Linked DNA regions of Homo sapiens: region 2 is linked to region 1. A link means that fine-mapping ties the variant in region 1 to the expression of a gene that starts in the linked region. Tissue or cell type: whole blood. Region 1 holds a variant in brackets; the other region holds the start of a gene. All regions are shown on one strand. Distances are between the middles of the regions.

Region 1 (8,259 bases):
TTTAAGTGGCAGGGTTTTCAAGCCAGTTCAGGTTGGGAGTAGGAGCTGGTAGGCTCAGAGAGGTCAGTACAGTGGGATGGTGGAAGACATGCTAACCCTATCCCTTCTCCAGGGGCCAGGGTGAGTCCCGTGGCTGTGGGGTCAAAGAAGGAAATAGGCAGGGAATTGCAGGGCGCTGGGTACCCAGAGCATGCTCTGGATGGGGCAGGAAGAAAGGTCCACAGACTAGAACACCATGTCCTCTCCATCCCACAGACTTCAGAGAGGGCCAGAGTGGGGTTGTCTGGAGTGCAAGGGCCCTGATTTTCCTGTCTAAGAACAGTGCTAGGGAGAGTTGCTTACCTGGGTACAGAGCAGCGAAAGGCAGAGAACGGATCCAGGAGGCAAACAGAAAAACAGACCAGGGATTTAGCAATGGAGAGTTGGCTTTTGGAAGATTCTGGAAGCTCATTGGAGCATTTATGACTCTTCTTAGGCCTTTCAGCTTTGGGACTAATAGTATGGGTGTAGGTAACAAGGCCACTCTATTGAGGGGTCTGTCTGGACTGCTTCCTTCCCCTGGAGTGCAGGATTTGCAGCCAGCTCCCATCCATCTCTGCATCCTCCATTCCACTGGTTTGACGGCAGTGGCCAAATAATGCCAAAATATAGGTCTAAAAAGAGTGAGAACGGAGATGGTTGCTCCCAACTTCTGTCCTCATGGATCATCACTGTTTCCCAATCCTCATTGCAGGAAACGGCTCACAATCCAAGAGGCTCTCAGACACCCCTGGATCACGGTAAGGGCACAGCCATGAGTTCCAATGGGCAAAGGGTCCCTGCTCTGTCGCCAGGGTTGGCCTGGGCAGCCAGATGCAGAGGGCCCATGGAGAGGCCTTTGCTTTAAACACTGACCCTGGGCACAGATGAAAGCTAGCCAGGGGCCCCAGAGGGCCTGGGCTTATTCGAATAGGTTTATTTGCTTGCTATTTTAAGTTTGTGTGTCTCAAATTCAGGTAACTTATGAAATGAAACCCTCACAAACCACAGTTGAAACCCTTTTTCTTTGGGGCCAACTTACACAGTGTTCTTTGTTGAAGGGTATGTCACTGCCACTTCTCCAAGTGGAAATCAGGACTCCCCAGGTGTAGAAAGATAGATGACAATTGAAAACCCCCACTTTGTGACCAGGCCTCCTTCCTTCTGATTTTTGGGGCTCTAAGTCAAGGATGACACTTAAATCAGCCACCCACCTCCTCAGGCCCTGAGGAATGGGGCCTGAGACAGAGGCCTGGTGGGGAAGAGAGACAGCCACTGTTAGGGCAATTCTGTTCCCTCTGGGGAGAGTCAGGGCAAAAAAATGAATCCCTGCCTAACTCGCCTTGCAGTCGGGCTTCCTGCTGGCTTTCCAGTCAGCTGCTGGCTTTCCAGAGGCTCTTGTGGTCTGGTGTGGTGAAGAGCACTTTGAGAGGGTGAGACTCAGCAGGATTCAGGCCCTAATTCTGCTGACTGACCAGCTATGCACACCCAGGGACGTCACCAGACTTCCCATTCACCTTAACTGTTATGTGAGAAGGCCAGCAAGGATGAAATGACCATAAGAAAGGTGGAGATAAGAAAAGGTGAGGCAGGCCAGGTGCAGTGGCTCATGCCTGTAATCCCAGCACTTTGGGAGGCCGAGGCAGCAGAAGGATGACTTGAGCCCAGGAGTTCAAGACCAACTTGAGCAACATGCCAAGACCCCATCTCTCTAAAAAATAATAATCAATCAATCAATACAAAGAGAAGGTGAGGCCTGTGGAAGACAGAACAGGGAGGGCTGGAGTCGTCTGGGAAGAGGTCAGCTTTATCTGCTCAGCTTCATCAGCTCATTGAAGGATGGGGAAGGCCCAAGGAGCCCTGAAGGAGAGATGCTCCTCAGCCCTGCTGCGTGAGCCCTGGCCTTGCGTGCTCCAGCCCTGCGCAGATGCCTGCGGAGTCCTGGCTGCAGCCTGCTTGTCTGCGTGAGCACCCCTTAAATGCTATGTGTGTGGAGCTCTCTCTAATGGCTGTGGACCCTTCTGCCCTGAATGAGCATGCAGACAGCACCCCCACACTCCTTGACCTCACTTATGGCCTAAGGAGGTGCTCATCCCACCCTGGTTCTCCCCATGGCCTGACGCATGCAGTGAATGCCAGAGGCCGCTTGTGTGCCTTCTGCCTACCCTTTGGACTGCCCTCTGGGGTGGGCGGCAAATTAACACTCTGATTCTTCTGTCTGAACACCCACCAGTCAAAAGGAGAAGGCAGAGCCCCTGAACAGCGGAAGACAGAGCCCACCCAGCTGAAGACCAAGCACCTGAGAGAGTACACTCTCAAATGCCACTCAAGCATGCCTCCCAACAACTCCTATGTCAACTTCGAGCGTTTTGCCTGTGTGGTGGAAGACGTGGCTCGGGTCGACCTGGGATGCCGTGCCCTGGTGGAGGCCCACGATACCATCCAGGACGATGTGGAGGCCCTGGTCTCCATCTTCAATGAGAAGGAAGCTTGGTACCGAGAGGAGAATGAGAGCGCCCGGCATGACCTGTCCCAGCTCAGGTATGAGTTCCGCAAGGTGGAGTCATTGAAGAAGCTGCTGCGAGAAGACATCCAGGCCACGGGATGTAGCCTCGGAAGCATGGCCAGGAAACTGGACCATCTGCAAGCCCAGTTTGAGATTCTGAGGCAGGAGCTCTCCGCAGACCTGCAGTGGATTCAGGAGCTGGTGGGCAGCTTCCAGCTGGAGAGTGGGAGCTCTGAGGGCCTGGGCTCCACATTCTACCAGGACACCAGTGAATCCCTGTCAGAGCTGCTCAGCAGATCATGCACTGAGGAATTTCTGGCAGGCTGGAAGCTCTAATCGCCAGAATCCAGTCAGTGATGCATCCCAAGAGGTTTGCAGAAGCATGTTCTCATCCACCCTGCTGCGGCCTCCAGCTAGAATTATCCTGCAGGGGTGTGTGTCTGTAGTATAGCCTTCCAGCCCCTCCACAGAATCCAGAATTGCTGAGGTGCCAGTTAATTCTTCATTCTGCACCTCCCCTCACCAATCTGGTTTTCTGGGAGGGCTCTGGCAGGGCAGCCAAGCTGTTAAAACAATTAGAGAGTGAGTACCCCTCAGGGTCCCCTTCTGCAGAGGGAGGATGGCTGGCCCTGGGGAAATGCTTGAGAATTGATTTGTGATGAAGGATTTGTTCATATCTCACTTTCTGCCTACATACCTTATGGACTGTAGATCTTGGGTAATATTTGAGTTAATTAGGAATAACTAAGTCAGCATGGTGCTTTCCTGCTACAGAAGCAGGGATTTACAATGCATAGAGAAAATAATATTGCCTTTCGTTTGCATTGATTTTTCACTTACCAAGCACTCATGTCTGACAAATGACCTCACTTGGTCCTTAAAAGAACTCAGTGAGATAGGAAGGTGGGTGGCATTATTATTATTATTATTTACATGTAACTGATGAGAAAATTGACTCAGAGAGGGAAAATGATATAGTCAATCAGTACAGATGAAACAGAAACCCAGGATGCCCATCTCTAAGATGAGGTATATGGGAGAAAGTAGTAAGGCTTTGCTGTAAATATCTACCTTAATATTAAAGTCCAGGTCCCAGAGGTAAAGTAAGCAACTTCATGTATTCTGCCAGGTGTAGGTGGAATGCATACACCTGCAGATGATTGTCCCAGGAGCTCTGTCCCAGAAGGCAAAGTCATTGTCCCTACCCATCCCTGTCTCTGTCTGAAGACCAGCCTGCAAGCAGGAGAGAAGGAAGGAAGGAGTCTTCCCATTCTCCACCCTTTCTCCTCTTCTGGCTAACGGCCCCAACTCTGTGTCGAGAATAAAGGCCAGAAGGTCCTCAACAGGAGGTTCCTTTTCTTATGTACCTAGGCCATTGGGCCTTGAAGGCCTAAGAAGTTCC[G/A]TGAGGGTTTTTGAAAAGGGCAAACATAAAGATGGGGAAGCGCAAGGCCACATGGTCGTTTCATGACCCAAAGCTTTGAGCACCCCTCCCCAAGGATTATAAGATCTCATCTCCCTTTCTCTGGGGGAGGGGACAGTCAACCAACTCATGTCAACAGAGCATGGCATATGAGCCTAGTGCTGAGCTAGAAGCTTGTGGGTAGGGGCATAACTTGTATAGTTCAAAGTGTCTTCATGGCCTCACAAAACATCCCTATCTTAGAGGCAGACTAAACGATATTCCCAATTTAGAGCTGAGGAAACAGGGAGAGGATGGGATTTTCCCAAGGTCACATCATTATGGCAAAAGTAGAGACCTTCTAATGACAAGTCTGTTGCTCTTTCTGCTTCCCCTGGCTGCGCCAGGCTCCAGAAGTTTACTCCCTGCTTGTGGGGGCAGCTCACACCTGGATTCATCCATCCATTTATAAATTATACTTAGGCACCAACCAACTTCCAGATGCCCGGCTTGACTCTGGGGATACAATGTTTAGTAAAAATAGGCCTGATTCCTGTCTCACGGAGTGCTCAGTCCAGCGAAGGATTTGAACATTGACCAAGAATCACAGAGAGATAGAGCTGCAGCTTGTGTTCATGCTGGGAGAGAAGCACATAGCACTGCAGGGGCCTGCCGTCAGGGTCTGACAGCATCGGGGGAAGCGTCCTGAAGCAGTGACACTGGAACGGAGGTCAGCTAAGCCAACCAGGGAGAGAGAAGTTTCCCAACAGAGCCATCATACCAGAGCTCTGTGATGAGAGGCGGTGTGGAAGGTTGAGAATGTGAGGACTGAAAGCTGGAGGGGAGAGAATAGGAATACAGTGCGGAAATGACCGGAGAACAAGCAGGAGCAGCAGGGCTTTGGCCATGTGGAAGAGCTCTGCCCTTATCCCGAAAGTCATGAGAAGCCAGCGGGTTCCAGGTGCTGGGGAGGGAATGCCCCGTGAACAGCTCAGACAGGAAGTGGTTTAGGACAAGACAGGAAAGCTTCATCTCATGAAACCATTTCTTCAGAATCCTGTCTCCTTTTCTATATGCATGAAGGATCATTTCAAATATCATATACAATATTTGTAACAGAAACTTACTTCATCAGCTATGAGAAACCGTGGTGATAAGATGCATCATCATTTTATGGACCACTAAGAAAAAAGGCCCAAGATGGGGCGTCTAATAGGAAACTCTCTCTACCCCCACCACATAAAGCTGTGATGCCCTCAATGAGAGGGTAAATGAGAAATAGAGCCACCATGCAGAAAGGGGGAGCAAGGAAACCCATGCATCTCAACCTTGACACTAAATGGGGGTGAAAAATCCTTCCCTGAGAACAGGAGTCCCAAGCCGGTGGTACTCATGCAGGTTTGCTTTCTGAATTTGCACTATCAGTGTGATCCAAAAGAACATCAAGCAGAGAGTGTAATGTCCAACAGTCTGAGGCTGGGTGGCCCTGGATGGCTGGCAAAAACAGTACTATCCTCTCCCGGAGCACCTGCCTTCTGTCCGGGCCAACAGTAAGAATATGATACCATCATCTGGGAGATGCCTCCTGACTTCAGAGATCCAAAAATGTATATCTTGGAACCAATGAAAGATGGCAAAAGCTCCATTTCCTACATCTTACCCCAGAGAATTGGTTCAAATGACCTGTCTACAGTCTCTCCAAGGTCTTACCTGCCCTGTCACGGGAAGTTGTATACTTGTTTGGTGCTGAGACACTGCAAATATTAAATGTCCCTTTGGCCGTGTTAACAGACCTTGACCTTCACACAGCCAGGTTTCTAAGGAGAGGAAGCCACTGATGGGGCAACACAGGGCAAGCTTTTTAGTGAAGGTCAAAATAGAATGCAGGCCCAGTGTGGTGGCTCATGCCTGTAATCCCAGCACTTTGGGAGGCTGAGGTGGGTGGATCACTTGAGGTCAGGAGTGTGAGACCAGCCTGGCCAACATGGAGAAATCCTGTCTCTACTAAAGATATAAAAATTAGCTGGGCATGGTGGTGGGTGCCTGTAGTCCCAGCTACTCAGGACACTCGGGAGGCTGAGGCAGGAGAATCGCTTGAACCTGGAAGGCGGAGGTTGCAGTGAGCCAAGATCACGCCATTGCACTCCAGCCTGGGTGACAGAGTGAGACTCTGTCTCAAAAAAATAAAAAATAGAATACAGTAAAAGAGTAAAATGTTGGCAATGATTTGAATGGGGAAAATTGGGAAAAGGGAGGGAGAAGTGGTTGTTTTAGAATCATGATCAGCTATACACAGTGCTGAGAGTCACCCATTTAGTTGGCCGTGAGCTGGACTCCGAACTCTAAGTGGTTTTCCTTATAGCAGTGACATCGTCCTCTCTATGCTCATGTCCAGTCACTGTAACTGTTTCTCACTTAGACGTGTCGTAAACAGACCTTTTTCTGTACAAAGAGCTTCTAAAGACAAATGAAAGAGAGTTGAGAAATGCCCCCAAGTCTTTTGGGGAAAGCAGAGGAGACCATGACCTTCCTCTGTGTCCTGGCCAGCTGAAGTCCCGTCCTTCCATGGCATTGGAACCTGATGCTGGGGGAGCCCGGGGGCCTGTGGGATGCAGCCACAGGACCTGCTTATCTCTGCTCCCCACACGCCCTCAGCTGACTTTTTACAACAGTGTGGAGGGCTAACAATGGCGGGAAGGGCTGTGAGAATGGACTGTTTCGCTGGTGCCTAGAGGAAGGAAGGCTTGTGGGTGCTGCTCTGTGGGCAGGCCCCTCTGCCATTGAGGATTTTTAATTCACCAAATTGCAATTTTTTTGGTGGGGGAGCCGCACAGAGTCTCACTCTGCCGCCCAGGCTGGAGTGCAGTGGCATGATCTCGGCTCACTCCAACCTCTGCCTCCCAGGTTCAAGCAATTCTCCTGCCTCAGTCTCCTGAGTAGCTGGGACTATAGGTGCGCAGCACCATGCCCGGCTAATTTTTGTATTTTTAGTAGAGATGGGGGTTTCACCACATTGGTCAGGCTGGTCTCGAACTCCTGACCTCAGGTGATCCACCCACCTCGGCCTTCCAAAGTGCTGGAATTACAGGCGTGAGCCACTGCACCCAGCCCAGACTGCAAATAAAAGGTCGGCTTCTGTGCTCTGTTCAAACACCATCCTGGGCTGTTTGGGAGGGGAAAGTGAGTGTATGACATCGCCCTGAATAACAATTCTCAAGGAAGCTGGCAAGCTGGCCCTTGGGGAAGGCAGCTGCCTGTCCCTGCTGTGAGGCAGGTGCTCACAGCCTAGCATTGCCTGACTGTGTGTCAGAAGGTGGGGTGATGGTTTGGTAATCGATGATTCTGCAGCTGTGGGAGCCTGGCAGTGAAGGGATGGAGCAGAGGAATAATGGCAGAAAGAGCTGGAGTCTCCCCCATGGGCCCCCTCCCCTCCCTTACAGGTGATCATGAAGATGGTGGCTTCCTACCTCACTCCATCACGCAGCACAGGTGGCCCGGCCCTTGCTGGAGGTGGCTGTGTGCCCAGCTGTCACCCCTACTGTCAATCTTCTGTAAATGTCTGTGGGACTGGATGCCTTTTTTCCTTGGTCCGTGAAATTCCTGACCCAGCAGTGGGCATGTTCACGTTGCAAAAGGGTCCAGTCCCGTTGAACAAACACTGATTGTGCTCTGGCTCAGGGGGAGGTGACAGACAAGGACAAGATAACCTCAAATAAAAGATTCAGTGTCTGGGGCAGATGGGGACCCAGCCAACTAGATTGGAAAAGCTATGGTGAGTGATAAAATAGAGCTTCCTCATCTCCTAGAAATCAAAGGAGAGAGGAATTCTGATTGAGAAAGGGTAAGAGGGTTGCAGAGAAGAGAGGCCTTCCCAGGGACGCCGTCCCCACCAGTGACCGCCCTCCTCCACTCCCAAGCTGTGTCCCTTGAGGAAGGCATGAGTAAAATCTGGAAGGGGGGTGGGGCTGAGCCAAGATTGGGGTTAGGAACTTGGAACAGTTGAATGGAGATTAAAGAGAGGGAGATTACACAGATTTAAAAGAGTGTTTTAAACTTTTTGTTATGGTCCCCTCAGCAGGAAAATTGCCAAAACTTGCACAGAAGTATAAGGAATGGGATAGTGGATTCCAGGACCTATGACCCCGCTCCAGCAGGAATCAAGTCATGCGGGTCCTCTTTCATTCATCTCTCCCATTACTTTTCTTCTGGGGTATTTTAAAGCAAATTTCAGACTTATTTAACTCATAAGTTCTCCAGCATAAATCTCTGCTAAGGATTTTCTTCTTCTTTTTTTCTTTTTTTTTTTTTGAGACAGAGTTTCACTCTCGTTGCCCAG
Region 2 (8,000 bases), 130 kb before region 1:
ATGGCATTGGGTCTTTATTTGCCCCTACTCCAGCACATAACCCCAGGAGGTACTATTGAATGTTTGCGGAGTAAAAGAGTGTGTACACATGTCCAGGAAATCCCCATCCCCCAGGTTCTCTAGAGAGAGGCAAGGCCTCCCATCCCCCAGCTCCTTCCTCCCTTCTCTCCTCCCCTTCCCTGCCCCATCCCTGTGGTGCTGAGTCCAGCAAGGCTAGAGGCTGAAGCAGCTGCCTCTGGCTGCAAGAACCAGTGCCCCCGGGGGTGGGGGGGGTAGCAGGAAAGGTTGCCAAACCAAGCCTGCTCCACACCTCCCATCTAGGAGGGCAGATGGCACAGGGCAGAGTGGGCATGGCTGGGAAGGGCTGAGAAGCCAGGCCACCAGGTCAGTTTGGGAAGAAGCAGCTTCCTGCCGGCCTTCCATCCAGTAGGCAAGCCCTCTGGGGAGGAATCACCTGTGCACTCCCTTGGCCGAGAGCCTGAGAGTCAGGACTTGACCCGTTGTCAAGAAGACTGCATTTCAGACTGCATTTGGCAATTCTCTGGGCCAGGCTAGGGGTGGGATGGGGCGCAGAGATGAATAAGATCCATTTCCTCCCCAGGGGAGCTTATTGCCAGACATTTAGGGAATAATAATAACAGTTAATAATCATTGCGGACTTTACCAAGTGCCAGACACTGATCGAATTGAAAAGTAACTGCATGCTCACAACAACCCAAGAGATAAATGCTACTATAAGCTCCATTTGACCTATGGGGATAATGAGGCACAGAGAGATCAAATAGCCTGCCCCAGACCACATGGCACGTAAGTTGCATGCTGGGATGCCTGAGTGTGGGCCCAGGCAGTCTGGCATCAGAGTCTCTGCATTTAGCCGTCACACTACACATGCTGTAAGCCAACCCAGGTGCCATCTGCCATGGCCAACATGCAGCATCTTAATCCCCACCTTGCCCCCTTGTCAGGAGGTTTTTAGGCTCTGTAAACTTGCCAGGCACCAAAGTATGCTTTAGGATATCACCATGACTAGTGCCCTTTGCTGCCTGCCATGGTTACATCTTTATCTATGGGCTTGTATTCTCATCCCTGGGAAGCACAGGTCCTGTGACTCTACCATCTCACAGTCCCTTGGAATGTCTTTTACAAAGCAGGTACTCAGATGTGTTTGTCATTGAGGGGGTTGAGAATTTCCCTAGGTCTCTGTGACATGAACAGACTGGGTCTCAACCTGTGCACTGGGAATCACCTGGGGAGTTTAACAAAAACTGATACCCAGAACTCATCCTCAGAGGTTCTGATGTAATTGATGTAGGGTGCAGTCTAAGCATGGGGGATTTTAAGCACCCCATGTTATTCTCAGTTATTCTGATGTACTGCCTGGACTGAAAAGTTCCAGATTAACACTGTTTTAGAAATCTTGGAAGTTTCAGTTGAGGGAAGGCAGCAGAGGGAATAGCTTCAGAGACCAGTAGGCAAGATTCATGTCACAGCTCAGCCACTTACAAATTGGATGAGTTTGAGCAAATCAAATTTCTCAAGCCTCAGTTACATCATCTGTAAAAGAGGATAATGACATCCCCCTAGAAGTGAAGCACTTGAAGTAAGATTATTGAGCATCTACTAAGTGCCAGGTGCTTGGGTGCTCTTAGGGGACAATAGAAAACAAGACAGCTATGGCCCCTTGTGATATTTACCTTCCTTAATTCAGTTTAAGAAACCTTTACTGGGTTTGGGATATCAAGCACTGTATGGGTTCAAAGATGGACAAGAAATTGTACTTGCCCTTGAGAAAAGGAGAAGTAGACACTAATTAAAATAGAGGAAGGAAGATGACAAGAGATGTACCAACCAAGAGTGGTGAGGTTCAAAGGAGAGAGGTATTTAGAGGGCAGACCAGGGAAGTTTCTGTGGAAGACATGATACTTTAGAAGGCTCTTAGAGGATAGATAAGATTTTGTAGAATGGGATGAAGGGTAGTGGAAACGAACAAAAGCATGGAGGCAGGAACAGCCAATAATCCAACCTGGCAAAAGAGCTGGATGTGCATGCAGAGGAGGGAAGGGAATGTGCATACACAGCAGGAAAATAAGGGTTGGGGCCTTAAATGCTAGGGTGAGGCATTAACACTCGATTTGGTCAGCCATGGGAACCATGCAGGGACTGGAACTGAGTTGGATAATTCTTAGCTCTTAATACCTGGACTGCCTCTGGCTTCATTCTGGAATTTGTGTCTTCATTGCCACTGTCCTCGGGGCCTCCCCTTTTCTGCTGATGGCCACCTTGGTCCTGTGTTCAGTGCCCTGTCGCTGCCCTCAGGTGAGGGTCTGATGAACTCACCCAACCTTAAGCATAAGATGCATCTCCAGATGGTAGCTTCCTAGATAGTTGCATTCTGGCAGGTACAGTGGAAGGGGCACCAGACTGAATCTGGAGGAGGCCTGGTTCTAATCCTAGCTCTGTCTCTCACCAGCTATGTGATGTTGGGCAAGTCACCTCCCTTCTCCGAGCCTCAGTTTCCTCATCTGAAAAGTGGCCAGGGTCAATTGACAATGACCCTTCCAGCTGCAATGGACTCTGACTAACTTGTCAATTGCTAAACCCAAGAATGTCTCTTTTGACTCATGTAAGGGGCTGCTGCTGCTGACAATGAGGTATTAAGCATGAGGCTCAAGGGAAAGAGATGGAGAGGCCACATGTAGGTGATCAGCAGGGTCAGCTGAGCCCAGCCTTGGATTCATCACAGCCCAGGTACTGGGTATGAGAATGGAGAAATCTCCAGATGATTTCAGCCCCCAGCTATTCAGGTGTTCCCAGTTGAAATCCCAGACACTGCAGAGCAGAAATAAGCCATACACACTGTGCTGTCTGAACTTCTGTCCCTCAGAATGCATGAACATAGTGAAACTGTTGTCCTGTGCCACCAAGGCTGGTAATGGTTTGTCACCAGTGATAGGTAAATGGAAATGGAGGAAGAGGTGTTTAGGGATAGTTTGGTGGGGGACTTCTCATGTTGGTGAAACTTCACCAGTGGGTGTCATTCCCTTAGGTCCGTTGACATCAGAAACCACCTCTAGTCTTGGATATTACTCTATATATCATGCTGCTCTTAGGAGAGGAGGCTCGCTGGCTGCACTGTTCTGAATTATTGTGAAGTTTATAAACAAGGAACTCTTTGCCGAGGATGTCCTGGACCCGGAGGCACTGCTCAGCTGGGGGGTGGGGTCCATCTGTATTTGTCCCAATGTCCAAAAGGCTGAAGGGTGTGTGTGTGCTCACACTGGTAGAGGTCCTCTAGGTGCATCTTACACACTCCATCTCATCTCAGCCCCACCATAGCTTCATTAGGAGCTACCGGAAGGTGCGTTTCTCCCACTTTACTGATGAAGAAAGAGCCATGCCCAAGAACACACATGCGGAGTGGCAGGGCAGGGCTTTGAACCTGGTGGTAGGACTCTGAATCTAAGGCCCTTTTGAGGAGCCCCATGGGTGACTTAGGGATGGAAATTCCAGGGGTTGGAGGGGTCCTCATTTGCTTCCTCTAAACAGCCTCTTGTTTTGAAATAAGACAAATGAACTTGGCTTAAGTTCTGTTTTCCCTTCCTTCCTCCCTTCACCCCCTCACTCTCATTCCTTTTTTCCTCAGGGATTTTTTGGCAGAGGGCAGAGAGAGGAACCCATTCCCAAGTCCTCTATTAGAGAAGGCGTGATGGTGAGAGGGGGGCTTCACTCAGCAACCGTGCCAGGACAAAGGGCAAACGAGGGCAGGCCGCTCTCAGGCTGGGTCGGGGGCAGTGAGGAGCAGAGCGGCCCTTCTCATCGCAGCCCCCACCTTGCTGTACGCTGTGGGCTTGAGGTTTCCAGGAGAGTCTGCGGTGTAGGGAGCGCTCTGGCTGGGAGGGAGGAGACGGCCTATTCCTCAGTGGGGCTTCCTCGCTCACGGTGTGTATGGTGGGGAGAGGAGCACACAAGTACCATTTTCTGAGGATTGTGCCAGACCATGTCATACGTATAAGCTCATTCAAATCGATTTCCAGATAAGGCCGGGGGAGGGTAGCCGACTTGCCCAAGGCCACGCAGCATGTGCGCGGTAGAGCCGGTAGGGACGCGCAGAGGGTCTTGCTACCGACTCTCCCCGCTCTCCCGGGAGTCTGGGAGCCCTGAGGTGTCCCCTACCCGGCCGGGAAGCTGGGCTCTCGCCCCGGGACTGTCCGGAGGGGGCTCCAGCAGGGGGCGCCCCGAGCCCCGTCCCGGGCAGCCGGGCGCGCCTCCAGCCGGCGCCTGGGACGGGGCTGGCCGCTCCGCCCCCTCGGCTCCTAGGCTGCTCGGCGGGCGGGTGCCGGGCGCTCTGGGAGGAGAGGACTGCAGGGCCGAGCCCAGCGCACCCCGCCGCGTCCCCCGTTCCCGCCGCGCCCGCCGCGCCCGCCGCGCCCGCCGCGCCCGCCGCTCCCGCCGCGCCTGCCGCGGCCGCGACCGCGGCAGCTCAGCCTCCCGCCGTGAGTAGCACCCGTCTGCGGGCTCGATGGGCGGGACGGGGCGCGCGGCCTGACGGCAGCAGCGCCCGGGTCTGGGGCTGGCGGGGCGAAGAGATCCGGGGCACTCGCTCGCAGATCCCGGGCCCGCCGCCCCAATGCCTGACGCCGTGGCCCGGGGCATTGTGGCCGGCACCCGAGCGCGGGAGCTGCCCGCCGCTGCCCTGGGGCGCCCTCCGGAGCCTGGCACTTTGACCTGGGAGACAGGGTAGAGGCGGCGGGCAGAGCCAAGCACCCAGCAGGGAGATGGGAGACAGACGTCCATCGAGTTAGGCCCCCTGGAACGGGCAGAGCACGCCCGGCTCCCGGCCAAGTCTTCTCAGCTTGGGCTGACTCTCTCACCTCTTGCTCCCGCCTGGCACAAGGATGTGATGCGAGGAGGGTGCTCAGATGTCTGAGCTTCCTCTGGGGCTGAATGAAGCTGGGGTCCCCGCCGTCAGGCGCCCCGGCCTGGGGTAGAGCTAGGATGGGCGTGGGGGCGGCCAGCAGGTGTGCTGCAGGTTGGGGTGGAACGGCTTGGAAGGGCGTTGCCAACAGTTGACTAGGACTCTGGGCTAGGCATTTTGGAGGTCCCAAGGCTTGCATAGGTCTGGCTAACCCTCACCGTAACTCTGCACGGTGGAAATTGGTATTCTTACTTTACAAAAGAGAAAACAAGGTCCAGAGAGGTGAGCCTCGTTGAGGCCGTGCAGGTAATGGTAAGGCAGTGGTGCACACTGGAGGAGAGGGCACCATAGCTGGCTGCCTCGGGGGCAAGCGGGCAGGTGCAGGGACAGCGCCTGACATCTTGTATCCTGGAATCCTGTGGAGGGCAGCCACTCTGGTTTCTGACACTGCGACTCCCAACTGCCTCTGTGGAAGATATTCCTGGGAGAGTCCTGTTGACCTAAGAGGCCGTGGTGCCTTGGCCTCTTCACAGCTAACTTCACAGCCCTGTCCTTCCCCAAACCGCTCATCTCCCAAGATGTTTTTTGAGCACCCTCAAGTGGCACCACTGATGATTCAGCACCTTCAGAGGAGACTTGGGCAGAGGGGTCAGGGGTGTGTGGATGTGGCTGGAGGTCTGCTCCTCTGGGGTAAGTTCCTGGCTGGCAGGAATGAGACCCGCACTGACCCTGCCCACCTCCTTGAGGCCTCCCGATTTGTTAGCTGTGGGGTGAACAAGCAGGCTTCCCAAGGGAGCTGGATCTTTGCCAGAGAGACCAAGTTTTTCTTGTGTCAACTCAGGCAGGTGGCTGACCTTCTGTGGGCCCCAGCTTCCTCATTGGAGACTGTGATGGGTCAAAGCCTGGAATGTAGAGAGGAGCTCTGTAATGCCGGAGCCCCATCCCTTCTGTTGGCAGCCTCTCCAGAGCCTGAGTGTGATGATTCCTAATGGGGGTGTGTGTAATGAGACGGTCGTGTGTGTTTTGCCCAACCATTGCCTGCCCTCTTGCTGTGGTCCCGTTTCACTCACTTGCACTTGGTGAGGTGGGATGAGGAACTGAGAGAGTTCACTTTGCAGAGTGAGCTGGGCCAGTGGTGGAGAGGGCTTCTTGAGTGTTGAGAGTTTCCTATGAGGTGATCTTCCAGCCCTAGACACCTCCTCCTAGCTTGTCCCTCAGGAGGCCACTGACTTTGCCAACCCTGGTGACATCTTGGAGGAGTTGGGGTGGCTATCAACAGAAGAAGCCCTGGGAAGAGGAGCGGGATGGGTCACCTGTATGATGCTCAGTGAGTCCCTTCCCCTTTCTGGATCTCAGCTTCCTCTTGTAAAAACAAGTGGGTTAGACCAGACAGCAGTGGTTTTCAAACTTCTGTTTCACAGTGAATTCTTACCCAGAACGCCAACATATAGTATGGATAACGTGGAACTGCTCTGGCTTCCCCTTCTCACCCTGGTGATCCTGAAGCAGTTCTAAAAATCCCTAAATAGATGATCTATGGGGTTCTAGGAAATCTGTGGTAGCCCCCTGAAGTGTTGCCTGGTATTAGAGTTGTAGGCAGGAATTTGAATTCCAAGGACTCCATCAGGAGAAACATGGGCATTAAGGTGGGTATCATCCTGGGAGCATCTGGAGCTGATGGCCTGTGCTTCTGGCCAAAAGTTGTAACTGTGTCCCTTCCCTCTGCCATGTGATTTCAGCTTTTCGAGGCTGGAAAGGTCCTTGTGCCTCTGGCTCCTTATCTGGGTCCTAGCTGGTGACTATAATTCCACTTCAGTTTCACCCCTTTAGTTTGTTTCTAAACTGGTAAAATGCAAATTCGCCTTAGGAGAGGTGTTAGGAAAGTGCTTGAAGTGGCTATCAGTTGTTTTACCTGATGAGCATCTGAGTAGCGGCCTTGAGAAAGGAGGCTGGGGAACTAAGTTAAAATCAGCCAACACTTATATAGTGCCTACTGTGTACTAGCCTACGACAAGGGGACAGAGGTAGGAATGTCACAATTCTTGCCCTTATGGGGCTCCAAGTCACAAAGAGGAGGGAAGGAATTCACGTTATCCATGGACCGTTTAAAACATTACACATGGGTTATCTCATTTGTCTCACATTAGTCTCATTTTAAAAAATTATGTAAAATTTTGATCACATACAAAATCATCCCATATATCCATCTAACTACCACCCAGATCAGGAAACAACATTGCTGGCACTCTGAAGCCTCCGAAGCTCCCCTTCCAACTCTCCCCTGAGTGAGGGGATAGCCACTCTGCTGACATCTAGCACCATGCATTAATTTTACCTAAATGGGATCACACAGTATGCAGTCTTTTGTGTCTGTCTACTTTCATTCAACATTATGTTTCTGAGATTCATCCATGTTGTTGCAGGTAGCAGTAGTTTGTTAATTCTTATTGCTGTATAATGATTCCATTGTATGGGTATATAGTACCTCAATTTGTTTATCCAGTCTTCTATTGATAACCATTTGGTTGTTTCCAATTTTTAGTTATTACTAATAGTATTGCAGTGACCATTCTAACGTGGATCATTTGGGAAAACATCTGCATGCATTTCTCTTAGATATGTCCAAAGAAATTGCTGAACAGTTTTCCAAAGTGGTGGTCCCAGTGTATACCCCTCCCAGCAGTGTTTGAGAGCTCTAGTTGCCGCACATACTCACCAACACTAGACATTGTCTTACGTTCATTTTCCATGGAAGGAATGTGAAACTCAAAAGTTATCCTGTGCTCAGCTAAGACAATGTGCCAGTAAGTGACAGAGCTGGGATTTAAACCCAGGTCTGTGTGATGACTATGGAATCTATTCTCTCCCTCTGGGTTAGACATAAACATAAGCCAGAATATGATCAACTCGAACCCTAAAAAGGTATGAAGAGCACTCTGGGAGAACTTGAAGAGGTGGAGAATTGTCATCTGTTTTTGGGAGGGCAAGGATCATGGAGCCGCACAGAGACGGTAGCATTTGGCTGGGTCTTGTGGGAAGTGGGTAGTTATGCCCACTCTCCAGGGCTTTCCAGCTGGGCCTCCCC

The links. PIP is the estimated chance that this variant, and not a neighbour inherited with it, causes the effect.
Region 2: DAPK2 starts here. The variant in region 1 is fine-mapped to the expression of DAPK2 in whole blood (TOPMed, PIP 0.96).

The regions. Positions count from the first base shown.
Region 1 is chr15:63,917,336-63,925,594 of GRCh38, reverse strand. It overlaps DAPK2 (death associated protein kinase 2), which reads left to right. Exons shown (of 12, transcript NM_014326.5): 9 at 734-779. Among named protein-coding and RNA genes, the nearest start is that of MIR422A, 50 kb to the right of the region's middle. The variant G/A (reference allele first, on the strand shown) is at 3,927.
Region 2 is chr15:64,042,791-64,050,790 of GRCh38, reverse strand. It overlaps DAPK2 (death associated protein kinase 2), which reads left to right and starts at 4,306. Exons shown (of 12, transcript NM_014326.5): 1 at 4,306-4,493. RefSeq lists enhancers at 1-332, 5,873-5,922, 5,973-6,022 and silencers at 4,133-4,342, 4,363-4,422, 4,453-4,672.